Linked DNA regions of Homo sapiens: region 2 is linked to region 1. The links come from fine-mapping of genetic effects on gene expression. A gene starts in region 1. The other region holds a variant in brackets. All regions are shown on one strand. Distances are from middle to middle. Region 1 holds the start of ADGRG5 (adhesion G protein-coupled receptor G5). Region 2 has its middle 12 kb from the start of ADGRG1.

Region 1 (5,361 bases):
GCCTGTTTCTTCCAGTACTTTTATAGATTCATTTTTCAAATTGAAATCTCCAGTCCATTTGCATTGATACTGGGATGCACTGGGAGATATAAATCCAATTTCATTTTTTCTCCAGGTGGTCACCCATTTTTCTTAACATGAATTTTTTAAATATATATGTTTATTTTTAATACGAAATAGAGACTATGGAGTCACAGAGGACTGGGTTCTTATTTATTTGGTTATTTGGTTATTTATTTGGCTGTGCTATTTACTTACCCTCTCAGAACCTCAGAGAAAAGACAAGGGACAAGATTTGGGGGAGCCGGGTGTGGTGGCTCATGCCTTAATCCCAGCACTTTGGGAGGCTGAAGCAGGAGGATCACTTGAGCCCAGGAGTTTGAGACCAGCCAGAGTAACATAGGGAGACCCCATCTCTACAAAATTAAACATTAAAAAACCTAACCCAGCATGGTGGCATGAGCCTGTGGTCCCAGCTACTCAGGAGGCTGAGATGAGAGGATTACTTGAGCCTGGGAGCCGTGATTGTGACACTGCACTCCGGCCTGGGTGACAGAGTGAGACTTTGTCTCCAAAGCAAAACAAAACAAACAAACAAACAAAAAAACAGAAAGGTTTGGGGAGGCAAAAGAAGCTACTGAAGGAACTCATTCAGGAGAGATAACTCAGGCCCAGTAGTGGAGGACCTGACAGCACAGAAAGGATCTTGGGCCAATTTGTCCACCCCTTCACTATACTGTTGGTGAAACTGAGGCCCAGAGAGATAGATGGATTTGACCTGCAAGGTGTAAGACCAGGCTCTTACCCCCACTGGTTCCAGGCAGGCACTGAGGGAAGAAAAGCCTGACCCTACCACACAACTGAAGAAATTGAGGCCAAAGCAGAAGTGATACCTCCCCCAGGCACTCCAGATAGAAGCTGTGGTTTCCACCCCCTTTCCCAGGAGCAAACCACAGTCTTCACTTCTGCTTGCAACCTCCAAATTCCCCTCCACATCCCTTCAGAGAGGTCACCATGCACCATCCCCCCACACGCTGAGCCATTTCATTCTCCACCCTGCAATTCATTATTTGTGGCCTTCTAGGAAACAGCAATCCCTTATCTGACTTCCAGGATGGTTCCAGTTGATGGTGGGGAAACCGAATACTGCGTAAGAGGAGTCTGCTTGAGGTTCTACAGCAGGCCAGTGGGCAAGCTGGGACTCAAACCCAGGCCTCCACGGTCCAGGGCACTACCCCCTGCACACTGCAGCCTCCCAAAGATGGTTGGGCAGCTGAGTTGCTTTGCAGACAAGTAAGACTCTATTTAGGCCAATAGAGAAATGAGGAGCTGTGGAGCACAGGACAGAGCCTTTGGAAGATGAGAATTTGATAACCAGTTGCAGTATTCAGTGCCTAGGCTGTGTGACACTGGGCAGGCACCTGACCTCTCTGTGTCTCAGGTTTTCTCATCTGTAAAATGAGGCCAAGGAAATCTATTTCCCAGAAAGAGAAATTCAAACAACAATTTCCCTGATCCTCTCCTGGGAATCAGGCCCTGAGAAAGGTCCAGGGCTCTGATCAAAGTCCTTGGCCAGGAATACATCTGAGCACAAGGCTTGGGAACCCCTGCCTTCCTCCCTACAGCTGACCATGCACCCCCGAAGCCCACCTCTCCCCAGCAGCACGAAGGCCTACTGAGCCAGCCATTCTCCGCACACAGCCCCACCTGCCCCTGCCAACCACAGTCTGGAGCCCCTGCCCCTGGCCTGGGTGAGGAATCAATCAACCTGTGGTCTCTGCAAAAAAGCACTAACAGGCCAGGAACGGTGGCTCACGCCTGTAATCCCAGCACTTTGGGAGGCCAAGGCAGGTGGATCACCTGAGATCAGGAGTCCGAGACCAGCCTGACCAAAGTGGCGAAATCCCGCCTCTACTAAAATTACGAAAATTAGCCAGGCATGCTGGCTGGTGCCTGTAATCCCAGCTACTCAGGAGGCTAAGGCAGGAGAATCGCTTGAACCTGGGAGGTGGAGGTTGCAGTGAGCCGAGATCGCACCACTGCACTCCAGCCTGGGCAACAAAGCAAGACTCCGTCTCAAAAAAAAAAAAAAAAAAAAAAGCCCTAAGAAATGCTATAGTAACCCTATTTCCCAGGTTGGGAAAGAGAGGCCACCCTGGAGCCCAACAGGAAGTCTGTGACCAAGCCAGCAGCAGGTCCATTTACCTGAGACATGCTGTCCCCAGGATCCAATCCAGGTCACTCTGAAAGGAGCTGCACCTGCTCCAGATTGCCAAGCACAAACTGTGTGCCAGGTCCTCTACTGAGCCCCTGACAGCCATCCAAGGTGCAGGTTCCCAGACTCACCCCATTTTACAGATGAGAAACTGAGGTCCAGAAAAGAAACCTCTCTTCACTTGTCCCAGACCTCGCGGGGAAGCTAAGATTCGAGACCCATGCCTAACCACTTCTTAATTTAAATTGCCCCTCCTTCCAAAAGCACAGATCTCTACATTGCCCCAGATGTGGAGCTGCCAACCAGAAAGGGAAGGAGGGTGGGTCCCCAGCTTGCTCACCAGGATATCACCAGGTCTGTGCCCACCTGGACATGGGTATGGCCAGTGCCCACTGAGGGGCCTGTGGATAAGGACAGAGAACTGGGCAGAGGAGAGTGGGGAGAGGCCCGGAGGAGGCTGACCTGAGAAGCTGCCGCTGCCGTCTCAGCTGCTGTCTCGGCTGCTGTCTTGTAGCTTCTGCAGGAAGAAGGGGAAGTCGGGAGGCGTCTGTGGGTGGCCTCTCCCTTTGCCCCACACCTGCACCCCCACTGCACTTCTCTCTGCTCCCTTCACCCCAGGCCCAGGCACCACACTCTCACTTCACTTCTTCTTTCACCAGCAGCAGCCTCTTTGCTTCCTTCGAGCTGTCGGTCATGCCCTGGTCACCCTTTGAGGGTATCACCCCGTAGAGTCTGCAGCTACTTCCTGGGGTGGCTGCTCCTCTGTGGAGGTGCTCAAGGACATGGCAACGTGGCCTTATGCAGTGCGCAAGACCCACCTGAGCTCTGCACCTTTGGGCAAGACATGTTGCCCCTCTGGGCCTCAGTTTTCCCATCTATAGAAAAGGGAAAATGATCCCTGCCTGACCTGACAATTGATGGCATATTGATGATGGCAAAGACCTCAGGCAGCAGCTTGGTCAGACTGCCTGGGTTCAAGTACCAAGCCCACCACTTACTGGGTGGGTGACTTGGGGCAAGCCACTCATGCTCTCTGAACCTGTTTCCCCTCTGTAAAATGGAGATAATGACAGTACCATCTTGCAGGGCAGTGTGGGGCTTACAAAAGGTAAGGCTGGCAAAGTCACTGGAAGTGCTCTATGAAGCCGTCATATTTCACAGATGAGGGACCTGAAGCCCAGAGAGGACCTGGGCCTGGCCCAGAGTTGCCAAGTGGCAGAGCATGGTGGAGAGGGGCCTCCCTGGCCACAGAGCCCAGAAAACATGAGGCTGGAAAGCTGGCCAGCTTCTCCTTGAGCCAGGCAGCTGGATAGGCCTGTCCTGCATCAGCCATACCCTCTGAAGAGCTCTAAGGGAAAGCAAGGAGGTGTGTGTGGGGGATAGAGAGAGAGTGTTGGTAATGGGGAGACGGTGCTCTCTCTTGCCTGGGCCCCATCCAGACTCCTGGGAAAACTGACTCAGGAATGTGCTCTTCCAGCCCTGGGGGAAAGATGGAGAGGCAGCAAAAGGGAGAAACCAGACAGGTCCTAACATGGTCTCCCCGCTCTCTGCCTCACTGGGGCCCTTCCCGCATCAGCCCAAATACAGCTTGCAGGTAGTACAAGTGGCCTCTGCTGAAGCAGGAGGGAGCTGCTCCTTGGAGGGCAGCCAGGTCCCCACCCCAGCTGCACGGTGAAGGTTTTGCAGGGACACCGGTGCACCTGTGTCCTGACTCCTGGGCTACACTCCCTCTGGGTGACTTGGGCAAGCCTTGGCCCTTCTTTGCGCTTCGGTTTTCTTTGATCAGGATCCAGACCTTGACCTCCAGGCTCTTCCTTTCCGAGGTCACCCAGCTACCTCTAGGATTGCCATGCCAACCTCCTCCTTCCTCATGCTGAATGTGAGCCCAACTGGCTATTCTTAGGGCTCAGGAGGAGGCCCTGCCTACCCCATAGCCCCTCTAGCCTGGGTCTGTACCAGCCTCACTGTGCCTTGCTTCAGTTGGGGGCTAAGTTAGTGCCCGTTACTTAGCCCTGCACTCCTGATCCTGAAGCTCACTACCAAGATACTCTCCTGCTCAAAAGCCAGTGGTGAGGCTGGGTGCGGTGACTCAGGCCTGTTATCCCAGCACTTTGGGAGGTGGAGGCAGGCAGATTACTTAAGGCTAGGAGTTTGAGACCAGCCTGGGCAACATGGCAAAACCCCGTCTCTACTAAAAATACAAAAATTAGCCGGGTGTGGTGGCACATGCTTGTAATTCTAGGTACTCGGGAGACTGAGGCACAAGAATCGCTTAAACCCGGGAGGTGGAGGTTGCAGTGAGCCGAGATCGCACCACTGCATTCCAGCTTGGGCAACAGAGTGAGACTCCACCTCAAAAACAAAACGAACAAACAAAAAACCAGTGGTGGCTCCCTATTGCCTTCACAGTCTAACCCCGTCCAACTTCCATTGCCACCCAGTCTGATTGTGCTTGCCATATTAATACCCACCTCCCTGCTCGGTCCCAGCTGTGGTCCCACACATGTACCTGGGAAGCCCTCCAGCTCCTCTCCACCCATCAGGGCTCCACTGGATCCTGCCTCCTCCAGGAAGGCTTCTCTGCCTCCTGCTCCTCCAGGAAGGCTTCTCTGCCTCCTGCTCCTCTACAAAACACTCTGGATGCTTGAGCAGTAGGAAGCCTGCCAGTCTCCTCTCAGGCCCCCAGGCAGGGAGGAGGCCACATACCATCTCAGTAAAGTGTCTCCCTATATGGGGGCTACTTACCCTGGTGAGTAGCCTGCAAGAAGATTGTAGGTGGGACCCCGACAGGACTTTAGATAAACAGTCACAATGCAAAAAAAGTCATTTACACATCTTTTTCAATCTTGGTTGTGTCCAGCAAAAGCCTCAGCTTAGAGCTAAACTGTTTCTTTTGTTTTTTGTTTGTTTGTTTGTTTGTCTGAGACAGAGCCTCACTCTGTCGCCAGGCTGGAGTGCAGTGGCGCAATCTCGGCTCACTGCAACCTCTGCCTCCCAGGTTCAAGCTATTCTCCTGCCTCAGCCTCCCAAGTAGCTGGGACTACAGGTGCACACCACCACGCCCAGCGAATTTTTGTATTTTTAGTAGAGATGAGGTTTCACCATGTTGGCCAGGATGGTCTCGATCTCTTGACAAGTCAAGTGAT
Region 2 (5,355 bases), 74 kb before region 1:
CACGCCTGGTGCGAGGTGCTGCATGCACCTCAATGCACCCTATAAACCTTCCCTCACCTCCCCTCACCCCACTGTTTCTCCCATAGTCCCCCAGGCTCCCCCTTGGCTGGGACCAATCCCTAAGTGTCGGAATTCTTTCTTTCCTGATCCGTGTGCCCTGCTAGCGCACCAAACCCAAGAACCAGCACAGGGCCTGGGATCGAGAAATTCTGGGTGATTGATGGGTGAGGAAGTGTGGGAAGAAAGCACAGACGGTGGATGGATGAAAGTGTGGACAGGCAGGGGATGCACCACGCCTTCAGCGAGTGTCTATTGAGGGCCTGCTGTGCACCAGGTCCTGTGCCAGGCATGGGGGATCCTGCAGCCAAGAAAACATAGAAACCTCTGCCCTCAGAACTGTAGGAGAGACAAGAAATGAATAAGCAAGTAATTATTAAAAATATCCAGTGGCGGCGGAGTGCAGTGGCTGACGCCTATAATCCCAGTGCTTTGGGAGGCCGAGGCAGGTGGCTCACCTGAGGTCAGGAGTTCAAGACCAGCCTGGCCAACGTGGTGAAACCTTGTATCTACTAAACATAACAAAAATTAGCCGGACATGGTGGCAGATGCCTGTAGTCCCAGCTACTCAGGTGGCTGAGGCAGGAGAATTGCTTGAGCCCCGGAGGCGGAGGTGGCAGTGAGCCGAGATTTCGACACTGCATTCCAGCTTGGGTGACAGAGTGAGACTCAGTCTCAAATAAATAAATAAATCCAGTGGTAAGAATTATGGAACAAAAATAAGCCAGGAAAGGGGAAAGAGTGATGGAGGTGGGATGGGCAGCTTAGATGCTCTCTGGGAAGGGACACCTGTGCACGGACTGAATATAGTGGGGAAAGCGGCCTTTGGGACATCCCCTGAGACCAGGGATTGGTGTTTAAGGAGCAAGGAGGAGGAGGCCAGCTTGATTCTGTGGCTGAACAAAGGAGCTGAGGTAGAGATGAGATGCAAGAGGTGAAACAGGGATGTGGACAGGTGGTCAGATGGGAGCAGAGGTGGATCCAGGTCTGGACTGGAGCCCTCTCTGACTCCCCAAGGCAGTAAAGAAGGGTTATCTGCTGGCCACAGCCCAGGTCCATTCCTGAAGACCAGCCCAGACCCCACTGGCATTCCCAGTCCCAGCTCCCTCTTGCCCCTCTTCCCCATGGCAAATTCCCAACAGTCGATGCCACCTTTGCCGCACCCATGGGCCTGCAGGCCTGCTCTGCCCTACGAGTCTCCTGCTTGAGTACAGACAGGGTTGGGGTACCAGAAGGGAGAAGGAGTGTCAGAGAGAGGGGGATCTGCAGGATGACAGCCTGACCTCTAGGCTCCGGGGTTTCCCCACAGCCCCAGAGATGTCACCCACCCTGATAAGGACACCAAGGGAGTCCCAGTGACTTCCTGTCTACCCGCTGGCAACTCCGCCACGCCTGACACCCATGCTCCATCCCCCATGACCTCTGGCCTCAGGGTCCCTGGCTTGTGATGGAGCAGCAGGGGCTGGGCCTGAGGCCCTGGGCTGGGACCTTCACTCACTAGGTACACTCGGGGAGGTTTCTTAACCTCTCTGTGCCTCAGATCATCTAGTAAATGAGGGCACATGCCTTTGCCTTGTTTGCCTTCTAAAAGTGAAGGGAAGAAGCTGCGCGTGGTGGCTCACGCCTGTAATCCCAGCACTTTGGGAGGCCGAGGCGAGTGGATCACCTGAGGTCGGGAGTTCAAGACCAGCCTGACCCACATGGTGAAACTCCGTCTCTACTAAAAATACAAAAGTAGCAGGAGTGGTGGCACATGCCTGTAATCTCAGCTACTCTGGGGGCTGAGGCAGGAGAATCGCTTGAACCCAGGAGGCGGAGGTTGCAGTGAGCTGAGATCGTGCCATTGCACTGCAGCCTAGGCAACAAGGTGAAACTCTGTCTCAAAAAAAATAAATAAATAAAATAAAATAAATAAAGGGAAGAAAAGAGACAGGGTCAGGAAATTGCTTCATCAGGTACCTAGGGAGCATTTGTGAGGTCAGGG[C/T]TTTGGCTCTGGGACTCCTCCCTCACCACCAATCCGGGACCTAGCCCAGCACCCCTGGGATGAAGGGGTGGAGCCGGAGAGTGTCCAGTTCTATGTCTGGTGGCTGCAGATGATAATAATAGCTATTATGTAATCCTGGCAACCAGGCACTGTGCTAGGCCCATTACAGGAATCAGCCCACAGACTCCTCACCATACCCCGAGAGGCGGAAGCCACTTTATAACTTTTTTTCTTTTTTTTTTTTTTTTTGAGATGGAGTCTTGCTTTGTCCCCTAGGCTGGAGTGCAGTGATGTGACCTTGGCTGACTGCAGCCTCCGCCTCCTGGGTTCAAGCAATTCTCCTGCCTCATCCTCCCAAGTAGCTGGGATTACAGGCATGTGCCACCACAATTGGCTACCTTTTGTATTTTTAGTAGAGATGGGGTTTCACCACGTTGGCCAGGCTGGTCTCGAACTCCTGACCTCAGGGAGCCACTTTATAATGCGGGTTTTACAGATAGGGCACAGGGGGTTCAGGAACGCGACGGAGATCCCACCCAGGCAGTCTGACTCCAGAACTCCCACCAGGACTCCAGGCCCCTTATTGAGCCCTGGGTAAGCCCAGTCTCAGCCTGCCCACCCCTCATCCCCACTCAGTGGAGGGCCTCAGGAAATGCAGACTCCTTCCCTCTTGGGGCACATAGGAGGTGTGGAGGGGCAGGAAGGGTCCCCAGCTCTGACATCTTGTGCTCCAGCAGGGCCGCGGGCTCAGCCTCTCTGCTCCCTCTGAGAGCTGGTGCTGCCCACAAGGTCGGGGGTGAGCTACCTGTCTCAGAGGGAAGCCAAGGAGTTGTGCAGCTAGGGCGTTGCAGATAAGACACTTACCACATCTACAGGGAGGACTAAATGGTCTCTAAAATCACCTCCTACTCACAGGTTATTTTACTTGGGCCATTTTTCACTAATTCATGTATTCATCCGCTAACCCGATATTTGCACAGCAACTACTGGGTACCAGGGCCTTAGATTTACTTAGAAAACAGCCCACAGAGCAGGCAGCAGAGGCGTGATTAGCCATGGGGCTCTAGAGCAGACCGTCTGGGTCGGTACCCGGCTCCACTGACCGGTTGGTTTATCTCCCTTAGCCTTGGTTTGCTCATCTGCAGAATGGGGGTGATAGCAGTATCTATCCATGGAGTTGTAAGGACTAAATGAGACAATGCTAAGTGCTACCACCCATGGCTGGCACGTGGCTAAGTGCTCAGTAAACATCTGCCACATCAAAATCCAGAGGAGAATTTAAATTACTAACCTTTGGTCTGTGCGAAATGGCTCACGCCTCTAATCCCAGCACTTTGGGAAGCTGAGGTGGGTGGATCACTTGAGGCCAGGAGTTTGAGACCAGCCTGGCCAACATGGCAAAATGCTGTCTCTACTAAAAATACAAAAAATTAGCTGGACATGGTGTTACACACCAGTAGTCCCAGCTACCTGGGAGCCTGAGGCAGGAGAATCGCTAGAACCCAGGGGGCAGAGGTTGCAGTGAACTGAGATTGTGCCACTGTACTCCGGCCTGGGCGACAGAGAGAGACACTGTCTCAAAAAATAAAAATAAAAATAAATTACTGACCTTTTAACTCATTCTGGTCTGCAGTGTTGCCTCCTCATATTAGAGCAATAGGAAAACTTTCCTCCATTCTGGCCACAACTGGAAGGTGGTCTCCATGCCACTGCTCCGCAGCCAGCCCTAGGATCAGCACCCCCATCCTCACCATGCTTTCTAGAAAAGAGGTGAGGGCTAGCTAGGCCATGGTATTACCCTGCCTCCTGCAGTCAGTTCATCAGATCAGTTCTCCACTCTCTGTATCCTGTGGTCACACCCAAGTTCCGTCAATATGTGATCATCCATCTGTGCACTGTCTGGGGTCTGACTCCAGCCCTGGATCTATCACTCTCCAGCTATGTGGTACTGAGCAGGTCAGGGCCCTCCTCTGAGCCTCAGTGTTCCTCATCTGTGAAACGGGGATAATGACAGGACCCGTCCTGCCGTGTTTTCAAGCGAATCACATGAGGATGCCTGGGGCGGGGGGACAGAGAACCACTCTGAAACACACTGTGCCAACCAAAAGGCTCCCCGGACTGTCCCAGCAGTTCTGAGGAGTGCCTGTCCCCGTTTTACAGACAAGGAGATGGAGGGTGACCGAAAACAACTCAAAGCAATCCACCAAGCCTCTGTGAGTCAGTAGCATCAGGCCACTTCCATGTGTTCCATGACACTGCAGAGCTTTCCTGGTACAGCTCTGGGGGCCTCTTCAGGTTTGCCCCGTGTCTTGAGTTACCTGAGTTCTGCCAGGGTCGAGATAGGAGCTACTGAGTCACCTCCTCCGGGGGCATTTTCAGCTGGGCCTCCCCATGCCTCCTCAGAGTCAGCAGCTGCTGTGTGTCAACTACCCAGAGGAAACAGGTGAAAACCAAATGTCAAGACTGGGGGCAGAGGCCGTGGCCTAGAACAAGGCAGCTCATACTGAGCGTATCCCTGGCACCCAGTGGCTTTCCTCCCAGCCCTGGAGCAGGTCTGGCCTGCCCGCAGGTCTCTTTCTGGGACCAGCCAGGAGCAGGCCTGGCCTGCCCGCAGATCTCTTTCTGGGACCAGATGTCCCTCCTGGCTCCTGATTTCCCTACTGCCATCTCTGCCTAGAGAAACGCCATCCACCCCCCTTTATGGCCCAGTTCAAATGCCCCTTCTTCCAAGAACTCCTCTTGGAGTTATCCCGTCCTCTTTTATGGAAAGTCAGGCTCTGAACCCCTGAACCCCTGAACCCCAAAGTCCCACATCCCTTTACTTATAAGAATACTGGCATCCAACACTCCCAAGCACCTCTCTGTGCCAAGCCCATTCCTAAAACTGCATGGATTGATTTATTTAATCCCCATAACAATCATTTGAAGGGAATTACATAGGGGATTATAGACAGGGAGACTGAGGCCTAAAGAGATTTAGGAACCTGTCCCAGAGCACACCAGCAATAAGTGCCAGTGGCAGGACTTGAATCCATATCTCTGTTGGACCATAGGTCCATGATTTATCTCTAGGTCATACAGTTTCTCAGTGAATGTATTTTATTCATTCATTCAACGAACATTTCCTAAGTACCCACCAAGTGCCAGGCCTCAAGCTGGGCTCTGCATACCTGACAGAGCCCAGAAACCATCCCTGCCTTCATGGAGCTGATGGCTTGATGAGGAAGTAAGGTAAGAAATTAAACAATCAATGAAGTAATTAATCAAATAATTCAATAAATACAAAGACAAATACATGTAATGGGAGGGCAATT

What was found. PIP is the estimated chance that this variant, and not a neighbour inherited with it, causes the effect. A credible set is the group of variants that fine-mapping cannot tell apart.
Region 2: its variant is the best candidate, but not a certain one, in a credible set for the expression of ADGRG5 in blood mononuclear cells (TOPMed, PIP 0.55).

The regions. Positions count from the first base shown.
Region 1 is chr16:57,540,018-57,545,378 of GRCh38, reverse strand. ADGRG5 (adhesion G protein-coupled receptor G5) reads right to left here and starts at 2,736. Exons shown (of 12, transcript NM_001304376.3): 1 at 2,678-2,736. RefSeq lists enhancers at 973-1,282, 2,787-2,956 and a silencer at 1,343-1,392.
Region 2 is chr16:57,613,829-57,619,183 of GRCh38, reverse strand. No RefSeq gene overlaps it. Among named protein-coding and RNA genes, the nearest start is that of ADGRG1, 12 kb to the left of the region's middle. RefSeq lists enhancers at 4,364-4,423, 4,544-4,593. The variant C/T (reference allele first, on the strand shown) is at 2,042.